Linked DNA regions of Homo sapiens. The protein of the gene in region 3 purifies or fractionates together with the protein of the main gene of each other region. This does not show direct contact. Each region holds a gene or a part of one and is shown on either strand. Other genes may lie near its edges.

What was found. Proteins that work in one complex are often made in the same cells at the same time.
Region 1: the proteins of UNC119 (region 3) and MACIR purify together in Homo sapiens (affinity purification with mass spectrometry; 4 studies listed by BioGRID and IntAct, with this or other methods). This does not show direct contact.
Region 2: the proteins of UNC119 (region 3) and C12orf75 purify together in Homo sapiens (affinity purification with mass spectrometry; 4 studies listed by BioGRID and IntAct, with this or other methods). This does not show direct contact.
Region 4: the proteins of UNC119 (region 3) and PALD1 purify together in Homo sapiens (affinity purification with mass spectrometry; 4 studies listed by BioGRID and IntAct, with this or other methods). This does not show direct contact.

The regions. Positions count from the first base shown.
Region 1 is NC_000005.10:103,265,263-103,268,762, forward strand, and holds part of MACIR (macrophage immunometabolism regulator), read left to right. Parts: intron 1-645; 5' UTR 646-735; intron 736-3,500. UniProt on the Homo sapiens protein: Regulates the macrophage function, by enhancing the resolution of inflammation and wound repair functions mediated by M2 macrophages. The regulation of macrophage function is, due at least in part, to its ability to inhibit glycolysis.
Region 2 is NC_000012.12:105,351,191-105,354,690, reverse strand, and holds part of C12orf75 (overexpressed in colon carcinoma 1 protein), read right to left. Parts: intron 1-3,500.
Region 3 is NC_000017.11:28,549,825-28,553,914, forward strand, and holds the start of UNC119 (protein unc-119 homolog A), read right to left. Parts: upstream 2,801-4,090; 5' UTR 2,734-2,800; coding exon 2,514-2,733; intron 2,269-2,513; exon of another isoform or gene 2,241-2,268; intron 1-2,240. UniProt on the Homo sapiens protein: Involved in synaptic functions in photoreceptor cells, the signal transduction in immune cells as a Src family kinase activator, endosome recycling, the uptake of bacteria and endocytosis, protein trafficking in sensory neurons and as lipid-binding chaperone with specificity for a diverse subset of myristoylated proteins.
Region 4 is NC_000010.11:70,537,767-70,541,266, reverse strand, and holds part of PALD1 (paladin), read right to left. Parts: intron 3,457-3,500; coding exon 3,361-3,456; intron 2,988-3,360; coding exon 2,859-2,987; intron 2,376-2,858; coding exon 2,259-2,375; intron 2,176-2,258; coding exon 2,020-2,175; intron 1,688-2,019; coding exon 1,505-1,687; intron 166-1,504; coding exon 25-165; intron 1-24.

The DNA of each region.
Region 1 (3,500 bases), on a different chromosome or scaffold from region 3:
TATGAAAGATTTACATTGTTGCTGCTTTATGGCTACAATGAGTCGATACCAAAAATTAATTGCATAATAATAGCATCACACGTTGTAAAGAGCTTTGCAGCATGTAAAGCATTCACCTACCTCATTTCATTTGATCCATCTAACAACTGTATTAGGGAGGAAGGGGGGTTATTACGGTCCACATTTTAGAGATTGATATTTATGCAGGGTCAAGAGGCAGAGTTCTTGGCAAGGCCAGAGCTAGGAACTATGGCCTGTGCTTTTGATCCTAGCCTAAGCATTATTTTTTTTCCATAGAGTACTGTGAATCGGTTGAACACATGAATAGGACTAGGATGGTGAAACCAATACTTATTACCTTACTTTTTCTTGTCTCTTTATTTAGCCCAGTTAGGTACTCCTAGTCTCTAGGTAGAATTTAAGTAACAGAGTACAGAGAAATACACATGATAAAATGTTTGAGGATGCATTTAGGTGAACAAACTCAACATCAATTGAATTAATTAATTATTGGGTCCTATATAACCTATACTTGATGTTACTACCTCCTGCTAGTTTTATTCTCTTTTGCAGTTAGAATTGATATCATGTTATAAGTTGTGTTACTTGTTAAATTAAAGGTTTATTTTTGTATTTCATGTTTAGTACCTGGAGTAGAACAGAAAAATTATTATGTCTGTGTTCCCTTGGGACTCATTGGAAATTGTACAGTGACATCTTCTGGGATTTAGTCTGGTAAGTTATATTTTGCTTTTTCCGTTCGTTAACAGTTGTATGAACACAATACCATAATGTGTTTTTTAAAGACTACATAAATAAACAAGTGAATGTGAAATGTCAGTTAATCAAGTGAATGTGAAATGTTGGTGTATTATTGCAAATATGTATACTATAATTACAAATTTTTAATGGTGAGAAATGAACTTATTGTTGCAATATGCAAACATTATTTTATTTGAAATGTTTGGCTAAGTTTTCCTTCCTTTAAATTTCTTCAACGTAAAGATCTTATGAAATAATATTTCAAAGTATAGTAGTTAGAGGTAACTGTTCCAATTTGGGGCAAATTTTAGTAAAAACATTAATCTCCAAACATTGCTGAAATAATTTGCAAAAAATTCTGGTTATATATTATCATACATAAAGAATGAGCCAACAGGTGTCTGAAAGGAGCATTATTTTCACTTAGTCGTACAGCAGTTCACTGAAAATGTGACATTCTTTTTATCACACCCTGAATTTAAACGGTTAAAAATATGCAATGCTGTTTTCTTCCTTTAGTTGTCTTTTTTCAGTGTGTCATCTGTGTATCTTTGCTGACATAGTTGTCCATGTGTCTCGAAGTCTTTGAAGGGAAAAAAGAAATTCATAATGAGCTATGGTAGCTCTTTAGCATCCTTAAGACTATATTAGTGTGACTTCATGCTTTGGTGTGTCATTCTACTTGGCCATTATCTTTGTGCATCCTTGCCTTGAATTATGTAAAGAGATCATAATCCTTAGAGAAAGCGGAGTTTCATAATAAGTGATTTCTAAATTTCTAGTCAGCAGCAGAATGATTCAAAGGAATGGTAGGGAAAAACAAATACTTTAATCTCATTAAGTAGATAAAACCTATTACATTTATGAAAATGCATTTTCGAACATTGGAAAATTGGAAACGTTACTAAAATTTTCAGTTTTGAGGAAAAGAGTAAGAAGTTTGAAAACCATAGTACAAAGTACTTGGAGAGGATATTGAATAAAAAACAATGTGGCCTGGTCACTGACTCAGCTAATAGAAATAAAGCACAAAACTAGAGCAATGGGTAGAAACTACAGGAATGTATGTGTATCTATGTCTATCCATCTATCTCTGTATATACCTATATTTATACAGTTGTCCCTTGGCATCCTTGGGGGATTGGTTCCAGGACTTCCCCCAGGTACCAAAATCTGATGATACGTAAGTCTCTGATACAAAAATGGTATAGTATTTGCCTATAACCTATGCACATCCTCTTGTATACTTTAAATAATCTGTAGATTACTTATAATACCTATTACAATGTAAATGTTACATAAATAGTGGCTGTACTGTATTATTTAGGGAATAATGACAAGAAAACAGTCTATACATATTCAGTGTAGATGTAATTTTTTGCTTTTTCAAATATTTTCTCTCTGTGATTGGTTGAATCCATGGATGCAGAACCCGTGGAGACAGGGTTGACTGTATATATGCATGTACATACAGATATATGTGTAAATAAATCGACATTCTAGCAGAGCTGCACAAGGTGAAATGAGTCATCTTGGGAGGCAGTGAGTTGCCTGTCACTGAAGGTGTTCAAACATACACTGGGAAACTATTAAGATTCCTTTTGATTCCAAAATTATACGGTACAAAAAAATTTAAAATTTGGAGGACCATCTGAAACGTGGAAATATGTGACAAAGAGTTCATTTATTTTTAATGTCAGGTTTATTATAACTTAGTAAAATCCGTCCTTTTAAAGTGTACGGTTTGATGCATTTTGACAAATGTATCCAGTTATGTAATGACCACTACAGTCAACAAATAGAACATTTTCATCACCCCCCAAAATTCCCTTTTTCCCCTTTGTAGTTATCCCCTCTCCCCACCCTAGGCCTTGGCAATTAATGATTGATTCTGGCAAATAGTTTTGCCTTTTCCAGAATGCCACGTAAGTAGAAACATGTAGTATATAGGTGTAATGTCTGCTTCTTTCACTTAATGTTTCCCCAGATTGTTCCACTTCATTGCTGAGTGGTATCCATTGTAGGGATGGACTGCAGTTTGTTTATCTCTTTCCCTGTTGATGGATATTTGGATTGTTTCCAGTTTCGGTGTTTGTGAATGAAGCTGTCATAAATATTCACATTCAGGTGTTTGTATGGACGTGTATTTTCATTTTTCTTGGGTTAGATATCTATGAGTATGGTGGCTGTGTTGTTTAATGAACATTTATTCAATTTTATAAGTAAATGCCAAACTGTTCTCTAACGTAGCTGCACCTGACAAAGGCTTCTAAGTAGCTAAAATAACTACGCCAAAGTGTGTGCAGATGAAGGAGCCCGATTCTCATTCAGCACAGATTTATTTTTATTTTATATGCAGTTTTAACACGTTTGGTTAGCAGATATTTCCAGCCCACAGAGGATTAGGAACAGTAAATTAGAAGGCCTAGGGGTAGGTTGTTAGCAATTATAAGCAGCCAAAAATTATGTTCACCAACATGACTATACAGTAATTACTGATTAAAAACAAAGGAGGGACTTAAAAGAGTGAAACTCTTCTATCTGATAAGTTCTATCTGACAAGTTCCCAAACCTATATGCATATTAGAATCACCTGGGAATCTTTTACAACTTGCAGAACCCAGGCTACACCCCAGATCAGTTAAATCACAAATCTGGGATGGAAAACAGACATCAGCAGTTTTTGAAGCTCCTTGCATGATTCTGGTGTAGACAAGTTTGGGAACCACATGCTAGAA
Region 2 (3,500 bases), on a different chromosome or scaffold from region 3:
GATTTCTAACCACAGCAAGGCCCTCAATATGCTGGGTCTTCTGCCATCAAGTATTCATGTCAGAGGCCCTGCCAAATTTTTTCAACAACATTTTAAACTAACTAATAATTCTAGCTGTCATTCACCGGGGGCAACAAGCATAATGCCAAGTATTTTCCTAGGATATTAAATATACTGTATTTGTAATCTGTCCCTCCAGCAGCTACTTCAGCTCTCTGTGCTCCCCACCTCCTCACTTGTAAAATGAAACATCATTATTCTGTCCATCAGATTATCATGGGTATGGAAGGAGATAACGTACAGAAAATGCTGGAAATCAGTGTATGGTGCACAGTCCTCAGTAAAGATTAGCTACTACTGTAAGAATGATGATGATGAAGATGATCACCCTGCACAGTTATTATATTATCCCAATTTCACAGATAATTATACTAAGGACACAATGTAACACAGCTAGCAAATGGTGAAGGGGATTTTAAACACAAGTCCCTCTGCTTCCAAAATGCAGGCTTTTTCAATGCTACTTCAACCCCATCCTCTTCACCCTCAGAAGACAGCGTTACCTTCTACTACATGGATGAGAAAAGAGCCCATCAGATACCCTAAGGTCTGTATCTATGAGGAGCAGAGAGGGCTCAGCTGACATGGGTGCATTAGACATGGTAAATTTATAAAGGATCCCAAGAAACTCAACATAAAAGATTTATCATTTCTTTTTTCCAAACACAAAAACAAAAACAAATTGCCAATGGGTTTTATGTCATTTCATTCCAAAATATTTTTCCCTGTATTTGCTACCTTCCATAATAATAAAATAGCTTTACCAAGGAAAGAATCTCAGTAAGATTCACTTTACATGTTTTAAGTGAAAGAAGTATTTGAATTACATTGTTTACATTGAGTAGCTATGGTTTTTTATTTTCAACAGCAAACATTATATTTGAGTCAACTTATTTAATACTGTTTCTTATTTGAAACGTAGTCATAATATTCTTATAAATATTGCTTAAGCTTTAAATCAAGACTTCTTTAAGAACACGAAAATTGATCTACAAAAAAAAATGCTTTCAATTAAATTCCAATTGTTTCGGTTTGCCCACTTACAATTTCTCCCCTTTTTTTTGGTAACGGCATCCCAATTTTTCCGTGGGGAATCACCCCTCTTCTGCTCTTTGGCCATATGGTAAGGTGGGGCTGATGATACTGATTGGCTCCAGTGGTGAGCACATGACTGCAGCCTGGCCAATGAGCACCCCACATTCTCCTGGCCCACTGACTGATTCCGAGATAGGAACATGACCCCAACGGGCCAAGAGAGCCCAGCCCTAGGACTTTTGATCAAACTACAAGGAAAAAGAAGCTGCTTTTTTCCACAGGAATTAGGAAGCTGATAAGATATAAACTGGTCCTGTTTGTCACCACTTGAGGAAAGCTGCCTAAGAATGAAGACGAAAGCAGAGAAGAGAATTTCTTCCTGTTGTTTGATCACCTGGATCCAGCTGTGACTACAGCCAAGTCCCTGGAGCTTTTCCACTCCACATGCCAATAAATTCCTTTGTGTTTGTTTGTTTAGGCCAGTTTAAACTGGGCTTCTGCCATTTCCTACCAAAAATATCCCAACGCAGCCTATTTGTGCCAAATAGCTGAGAATCTGCCACACTAAAATAAGAACATGGTTGATGTTGGCAGGTTTGTGAAAGCGGCCGAATGTCATTACCTTGAATTCACTGTTTTGTTTGTTTTGTTCAGTGTGTTACTGCACTGTGATTTAATTTCAAAGAGACAGAAAGAGAGGGAAAAATAGGCTTGTTTTCTGATACACATGTAGGCTTTTTCTTATGGTGATTAAGTTTCTAGACATTGTCAACCATGCTTTCAAGTGTTGAAGGTTAACCTAGCTAGGTTTTGAGTTCTCTAGCCTGTCATAGGATTTACATGCATCGTTATTCTCTCCACCACCAGAGAGAAACCCCCTCCCCAAACCACCATCAGCTTTTCTTACTCGCCTGGTTCCTGTCTTTTAGCCTACAGCAATATCCATGCCTCCTCCATGCCAAAAAATAATTTTTAAAAAAAGACAAAAGGAAAAACAAACTTCAATACACAAAATCAACCATACTCACAACTGGGCAGAAACAACCAAAAAACACTTGAAGAAAAGTGTAAAATGTTCATAATGATTGTCTCTGGTGGTAGAATAATAACTGAATTTTTCTCTTAAAAAATACTTTCCTGTACTTTCCAAATTTCCTTGGTATTCTTTTTCTAATACAGTATATTCTGAAAATTTGCCTCCTCTTAAAGCCACCAACATCCCTCCATTCCTTACCGCCAAACAGCATAAAAACCAAAGACCCACATCACTCTCTCCACTTCCTTGCACCTGGCTCACTTCCACTTTGACTTGGTTATCATTCACCCTGCTCAACTGAAACTACAGTCCCCAGGGTGACCAATGTGGCCATCATGACACACGCAATGACTTCTCTTCCTCCTTCAGCCCCCCATGACCTCTTTGGACTATCAGCCATCGCTTCCCTTGGCTCAAGTTTGACTGCAGCATTATCCTCAGAGTTTCCTTTCCTTTCCTTCCCCGTTCAGTCATTAAACAAATCTTATTAATTACATTTTCTAATGCATCTTGTTTGTATCACCTCTTCTCCTTTCCCTCTGCTATCTGACCCTCTTGTAGCCTCACTTCCATTATTCCTCTGTGCCTGCACCCTCCCTCATCCCATGTGTCACACTGCTTTGGGAGTTACTGCCCTAAAACTCAAACATAATCATTTAATTCCTCCACCTTAAAATCTCTATCAGCCCTTGAATGCATAAAAAAAAACAAGCACGATTATTGGCCTTGCACCCAAGGCCCTTCACAAGCCAGCCCTGCCCATCAACCTCATCTTTCACTTCTGCCCAGACTGTACCACAGGCACAGGCTCCAGGGGACACCACCTGGCTGGCTGGTCCCAGACCTACTGTCCTCTGGCACTCCCATGCCTTTTTTCATGCTTGTCCTCTGCCATGGGTTGCCATTTTTCTCCTTTTCTGCATGAACTCTTGTTCATCCTTCAATTCCAAGACCAGCATTAAATTCTGAACACTGGAATAATTAGCACTTACCACACTGTATTTTGGTCCCTAGTAGACAGTGAACTACTTCAGGACAGATACATCATTTTATTTATTATTATATACTGACTTCTCACCTATAGAAAACAGCAAATAAATAAGAAAAACGAGTAGTAAAAATTGCAGACCTTTCCTAGAGAATTGATTTTTTAAATATATAGTATTTCTGGCTTCCAAAAATAACAACCATTTTCCCACAAAGACTTTCCTGTGGTCTGCATAATATTGTGTTTGCCCTATTCTAAGTTCTTTACTCTCAGTACTTATTCTACTATTTTGGCCAATCCTTCTGGTTTGGGAATCAGTCTGTTTAGATTTTAAAAAAAAATTTTAATGTGCATAATAAAAAAATTAAGTGTCATCTTAAT
Region 3 (4,090 bases):
GAGGCCCTGGCAACAAAAAGAGCTGAGAGGTGCAGGGAGGGACTCGTGCTGTCAGCCTGCACAGCATCACATCCTCCCCTGGTGGCCCACAGAGGCCTGGAAATCACCCTCCAGGCCCCTGGGCCACCTCCTATTCCTCTGGGGCAGGAACAGGAAGTGAATATAAAGTCATTTTCTCTTCCCCAGGTCTGCTTCTTCCCCAAGCCTGACGCTGTCCCCTCCAGGAAGCCCTCCTGGCAGCCATCTGGTACCCTGGGGCCCAGCATGGACTTTATACAGCTTGGGGAAGAGGCAGGGCCCTGAGTCTACTACAGCCCACATGTGGGGTGGGGAGAGAATGGAAGTGGGCAACCCCTATCTCACCCCATTCACCCTATTTTCACAGAAAGTAAGCACCAGTATAAAGACATAGAAAGAAGGTACAGAGCATAGGGAACGGAGGTGGCAGAGTGGGGAGCAGGATCCCAGTGCCCAACTCCCAGATCCCTGTAAGGCCTTCTCTTCTCCCATTCTCCAACTTTTGGAGCCTCTCTCATTTGGGAACAACTTCCTGCAGTCTAACCTCAGTCTCTTCTACTGCAAACTCAATCTATCAACCTCTCTGTCCTTAGAAGAAGTGAGGAACACGGATATCTATGGCTCAGAACACCACGGCCACTCCTTCTCTTCTAGAAAGGATGAGGCCTGGGACCCAGGGTCAGGTCAGAATAAGGGGCAGAGTGGCCAAGGGCTCAGAACACAACTGCTCTATTCCTCTCAGCCACAAATAGCTTCCTAAGCTGGATTCAGGGCCCAGTAATCTGGGAACAGCAAACCTCAGACCTGCATGATTAGGGTCAGAAGAGACCAGGCAAGGGGTGCCAGGGTGGAAATCCCTGGAACTCTGTTCTCAATTCCTGCACAGGAAGGGGTTCTCATGAAGCCCTTTCCTCTACTTACCCTTCACAGATGCCCCATCTCTAAGGGCTATGAATTTCCTCCAAATTAGGAGACAAATGGTGGTACATGAGCTGGAAGCTCCCTCTAGTTGCAAAATAAACCCCCAAAGTTACTCAGGACTCAGTCAGTCTGAGAAAGTTCTGCCCCAGAGCTAAGCTGAATCCTAAATGCTGCTATTGCAAATTGTAGCCCAACTGGCTTCAACATCAGCCTGGTCCAGCCTCCCTCTCTCCATTGATGCCTGCTTGGGCAAGGGAGCTCAGTACTCTGGGGGCCCAGCTAAGAATGGCTGCTGCCTAGCTCAGTAAGGAGAGAGGAATTGGCCCCCAGGGACCCAGGAGCACAGGCTCAAGGCTGTCTCCCCTCCACAGCTCTGTCTGGGAGTCCGGTGTTCTGCTGCTTTGGAAGCTCTAGGGCTCAGGTCCACTCCAATACATGCCCCCCATACCCACAGAGAGGCCCCCCCCAACAGTTATTCTCACAAAGGGGGCCAGGGCAGGTTGCTGGTGAATGTGGCCAAGGTGGAGAGCCACTGTCTCTCCATGCACCTTTCATCCTTTGAGGCTCATCCAAAGCCTCTGCTATGAGGTTTCCTAGCCCTCGTTCCCTGCCTATGATGACCCCCTCCCCTGCCCTGAAAGCCAAGTTGTTTGACTCCAGGCAGCAGCTATGAGCAGCCCTGTAGGGCCCAAAAATACTACTGATCAAAGAGCCCAATGTACACAGCATGCATAGATGCCAGGCACTGTACAGAATCAGAGGACTTATCTTCACAATAATCTTACGAGAAAGGTATCATTATCCCCATTTTACAGATGAAAAGACATGCTCAGAGAGGTGAGGTTACTTGCCCAAGGTCACACAGACAATTATATGGCAGAGTTGGAACTCCAACCCAGGCAGTCCAGCTCAGAAACTCTTAACCACAGTGGAGACCAAGCCTCCCTTGATGACAGAGCCCCCAGAAGAGGACAGGTGCTAGTCCAGGCTTGGAGGGACATTATGCCACTCCCCATGAGAGGAACCACAGCCAACACACTAAAGCTGCCTGCTCAGTTTCTTTCCCGGGGAAGAAAATGGCCCAAGTCTTCCTGGAGGATCAGGGTGAGGGTATTAATGGTTGGGGAGACATGAAGAGTCTGAATGCCTCCCAAGTAACTCAGCCTCCACCTAGCCTCCAGCGTGGGGGCTGAGGACAGGCTGCACTCAGCCCCTCTCTTCATTAGTGCAGGGACGGGCCTCAAAGCGCTCTGGAGACTCCACAGCTACAGGGCTATGGTTGCAGCTGCTGCCGCACGTACCTCCACGCTGGGAAAAGGGGACGGGCCCCTGGAAAAGGAAGGAATAAATCTCGAAAGGGAGAAGAAGGAGGCACAGAGAGAGATCAAGGGAAGGGGGTACACAGAGATCTCAGACCTGGCGGCAGAAGGGAGAGCAGGGGACACAGGAGAGGGGACTCGGTGGGGGAGGGGAGGCGGGAAAGGGGGCGGGGGCCAGGGCTTGGCGCGCCGGGAGGGCCCCTCGCACCCTCTCCCCTTCCCACCCGCGGGCGGCGCTCCCTCGCGGGTGCTCACCACCGGTGATCCGCTGCAGCCCCAGCACGTCCTCCGGCCCGATCGGCTGCTTCCTCTGCAGCGGCCCCGGCCTGGGCCCTGGGCCTGCGTCCGGCTCCGACTCGGACCCAGATTCGGATTCCGCAGGCGGCTGTGGTATGGGGGCCACGCTCTGGCCCGAGGGCCCCGGAGCGGACTCCGTCGCCGTCCCGGCCCCACCGCCGCCCTTCTTCACCTTCATGGCCTTGCGGGGCCGAGGCTCGCCTGCTGCTGCCGCCGCTGCCTGCGCCGGCTGGAGCCGGGGGAAGTGGGAGCATCCGCAGCCCCGCCCCCGGCCGGGGCCCCAGGTACTGCCCCGCCCCGGCCCCGCCCCTGGGGTGGGCCCTGCGCTGATCCCGCCCGCCGCCCGGCCCAACCCTCCCGAAATGCGACGGGCGCGGGGGATGGGAGTCGGGGTATCCTGCCCTGGGCTTCATTCTGTTTTTCTAACACTTTCTTGTACTGGTACTAGTGGGGTCCTGACTACCTCTCCGCTTACTCATTGTGTTCCAGCCTTTCTGCCCGTGAGTTCCAGGCTCAGGGTCTCTGCTTGGATGGTCTTCCCCAGATGGCCTCTTTTCTCCTAGTCACAGCTCAAATGTCATCTGCTCAAAGGGCCTCCCTCACACCCAGTCTGAAGTCCTTCCCCCTCAGTCACCATCTGACCAGCCTGTTTTTGTCTTTCTAATGCATTATGTGAAATTATTTTTATTTGTCCGCTGACTCTTCCCCCTGAAAGCTCAGCTCTGTGAAAGCACTGGTCCTGCCTACTTTGTTCTCTGTAGGACCCCTGTACCTAGCAGAAGGCTCCCTGCAGCTGGTGCTCAAGACTTTTTTTTTTTTTTTTTTTTTTTTTTTGACCTGATGAATTAGTATCTCAGGTAAAAAGCAGATGCTAACAGCCTTGGGCAATCCAGCTAGGAAGGGCACATGGCCACGTGGAAGCAAAGTGGACCTGTGGGCACAGGAGGACAAACACCAGGAAACTGTTACTTACGCGTGAATGCAGAAAGAGTAGAGCTCAGACTTTGTATCATTCCAATTCATATTCAGCCAGTGTTTATTAAGAGCCTACTACACGCCAGACACTTTACATGCTGATCACATTTACTCCTCACAACCATCTTGTAAGGGAGACATCATCAGTGCCATTTGAACAAATGAAAAACTGAGGCTCAGAGAGATTCAATACCTTATCCAAAGCTCTCCAGACAATAAGTGCAAAAACAAGGATTTGAATTCAGGACTGTTTGATTCCAAATCTGGAACTTTCTGGAACCTCTGACACACACACACACACACACACACACACACACACACAGCACCATGTCCTGAGCTGCTGCCTCCTGGACTCCCGCCAGACTGCACCTGACAGACAAAGCCAACTAGGAGGGAGGGGAGTGAGGGAGAAGGTCCCACAGGTGACCAATGCCTGGCCCCTTCATGACAGCAGGGGCTAGGGCTGTCCCACAGGGACTAGAGAGAGGTGTGGAAGGCAGGGACTTTCCCATAATGCTCCCTCCTCTCAGTGCACAAGTGTGCTATGTTGAGAAATGGGG
Region 4 (3,500 bases), on a different chromosome or scaffold from region 3:
TCTCACTTGAGAGGCCACACGTACTTGGATGTGCCAGAAGGCCAGGACAGCCACCACCATCGCAGTTGTGGTACGGCCCTGGCCGCTGAGGCAGCTGAACACGAAGCCAGTGCCTGGGTCCTTGGAGAGGGCGGCCCGCAGGGCCTCCAGCAGCTGGTCAAAGTCCTGGACGAGAAAAGCAAGGTCTGGGTCAGCGGGCGTCTCTTGGATGCACAAACCCCAACAGGGTCCCCATCCACATGGCAGCCCCAGCCACTGTCCTCGGGCCAGAAATTGTCAGGCTCCCAAGCTTGCACACACAAACAAAACTCACCGGGGTGCATGAGACCATGTGCGTGTAAACAGCTGCACCTGTGCAGTCGTAATCACCCTCACACCAAGCACCTGGACAGGATGTGTGAGCCAACACAGCATGCACCTGGGGCTCAAGGTACCCACCCTCCATCAGGCAGGACATGCACCTGTATGTCACCCCTGTGTACTGCGCCCCTGGGCTGCACATAGACTGCTGGCCCTGCCACCCACCTGAGCTGGACCCAGCCCTGGTCCCACCATGGACGGGGGCCTGACCTCAGAAGAGCCCTGCAGCACAAGGCCACCAGGAGGCAGCAGACCGCAGGCAGTGAGAGCCGCGAAGAGATGCGCCAGGAGGGGCTCAGGCAGGGTAACAGACCCCATTGCCAGTTACACAGCACACAGCGACCCACCTACAACACACGCACCACGCACACGGTGGCTCACCTACAACACACGCCAGACACACGCACCACACAGGGATCCACGTCCGGTAAACACACACACTATACAGACACCCACAGTCACAGACCTACAGATGCCACACACACACATTCCTAACGACCCCTCCACAAACCCTACCACACACCACACCACTCCCCTAAAGATGGTTTTCCACACACAGCCCCCAATACAGACAAGGGAGACATCACAAACTCCATAAAAAGACATGCACACACACACACATTCCACACACCACCCACACACTCCATACACAGTCCCCCAACTGAGACACACACACCACGGACACCCTGGACATGTTCACCCTCAACACACACACACACCTTATAACAAATACACACACACACCTGTAACAGAATACACACACACCCCGATAACACACACACACCTATAACACACACCCATAACACAATACACACACATACACCCTACAACATAATAAACACATGTACACACATCTTATAACACATATGCACATACGTAACAGAATACACACTCCAATACACACACACCTATAACAATACACACACATATACCCTATAACACATAATAAACACACGTACACACACACAAAGCTTGGAAGGAATGTGAATAAACCACTTGGGCCAAATCGGAAAACCTCGTGAGACCATTCCCGGGCCCCGTAGAGAAGCTGGGGTCGTTTCATTCTCCCAGAGCCCAGACCAGAGGGGAGACAGGGAGGCCTCCTGTCCCTCCCCAGAGGCCTCAGCCTGAGCAGCACCCTCACCTCCTCTCGGGGGGCACAGAAGTCCGGCATGGGGATGCGGTGGTAGGTGAGGCCAGGACAGGCCCTGCGGTGCTGGCTGAAGACCTCCTGCATGGTAAGGCAGGTCTGGAACCTGTAGGTCAGGGGGCCCTCCTTGCCTGGGGGAGGCTCGCTTAGATGGGCCTTCAGCTGGGCCTCCAGGGTCTGGGCAAGGGCAGGAGGGAGGACACAGGCCACTGGGGCAGGCTCTAGGCTAGCCCTGAAAGGCCACAGCCTGCCATGGCCAGGCCTGGCCCTGGCTTCCAGTCCCATCCCTGACCCCCCCAAGCCTCAGGGGTCACAGCCACCCCCCAAAGCCAAGCAGGTTAGCAGAGCACTTTAGTGGGAATCCTGAGTTGGCCACTCCCTGACACTGCTCCTCCCGGGGCCTCAGATTCTCCATCTGTCTGCGGGAGTGTGAGGCCTTCTGAAGACCCTCCCAGGCCACTCCCCAGAAGCCTCGGAGGCAGGGGTGCCTAGAGGGCAGGGGGCCTCACCTCCAGCTGGTCAGGAGCCACAGGGGGCCCAGGCCACCGCAGGCTGTAGGTGTGCCCGTCACACTCCAACACGGCCTCCTCCCGAAGGCTCACCCAGACAACCTTCCGCAGCCTCCTCTTGGCGTCCGTCAGGTAGGCCAGGATGCTCCCCAGGGCCTGGGCACAGGAGGGCCGGCAGTGAGTGCTCAGCCCTCCCTCCCCAAACCCACTGGGGGACCCAGGCCCTGAGGGCCGGTCACCTTGGCGCTGGGCTGGGCCGTGCCGTAGATGGGCATGCGGGGCACCCGCCGGAAGTTGGCCACATCCATCTCTCTGACAGTGCTGAGCGCGTCCGGGGAGACCAGATCGTCCTCCCGCTGTGGGGAGAGCACCAAGCCTGGGACCCACAGCAGCCGACTGTAGCCGCAGAAAGGGTCAGGACCTGGCCCAAGGCAGACGGGGGGTGGGGTGGAACCCGAGCTTCACAGTTTACAAAGCACTCCTGCACACTTGGAGCTTCCCCCGGCCCTGGCAAGAAGAAGTGCAATGGTGCCCACTCTCTGGACCAGGAAGCTGAGGCTCAAAGAGAAGAAGCTGGAGGCAAAGATCATAGAACCCTGCCCAGAGCTCTTGGGTTTGAGACTGAGGAGAAGGTACCAGAACAGCTGCCAAAGCTGCAAATGCTTGCTGGGGCCTAAGCATGACCCCATTCTGTTCACAAGAGGATCCCAACACCCACAGCCTCTCTTCTTCACCTCCTGCAAGGGCAATGCTTACCCCAACCCTACAGGAATCCAGTGTTTAGGGGCCAGGGCCAGTACACAGCCATGCCCACTTCTCCGACTGCCAGTCATACTCACTAGGGAGCCCCTGGCGATGAGGTCCCTCGGAGCCACAGGGCCTGCTGAGCTCAGCGTCACGGGCAGGCGGTACAGCTCAGGGTGGGCACACAGCCAGCGGCTGAAACTGAGGGCAAAGGCCAGCGGGTACTGCAGCCCGAGGCAGAGAGACGAGGAATTCAGGGGCACAGGGCCATCCTGAACCCTCCCTGCCCACACCATGGCAGGGGAAGCCCCAAAAGATATCCAACATGGCCCAGAGCAGGGACAAGGGAGTGGCTGAGAGAAGACCTGGACGTCTGGTGTCCTGGTTAAGGACAGAGACAAGGGCCCGGTGGAAAGAGGTGGGGCCTCCCTATGCCCAGCTGCTCAGGGACTACTCCCGAATCTGGGTCTCTCCTGGCCTCCCTTCCCTCCCCGGTTCCTTGGGGGGTCTCCCTCCACAGCAAGCCAGTCACTGCGGTGGGGAGGCTGGGAGAGGCCCAGGAGGAGGGGACGTGGGTCTGCTCCTCCCAGGCCCCACCTGCTCATGAAGGTAGTAGTTAAACAGGATCAGGTAGAAGTATCGCTCCAGGCTCCACAGCGCCCTCTGCCAGACGCTGTGTCGGCTGCCGCTTCCCTGAGAGAGAGGACAGGGTGTTAAGGACAGACTCCTCAGGCAGT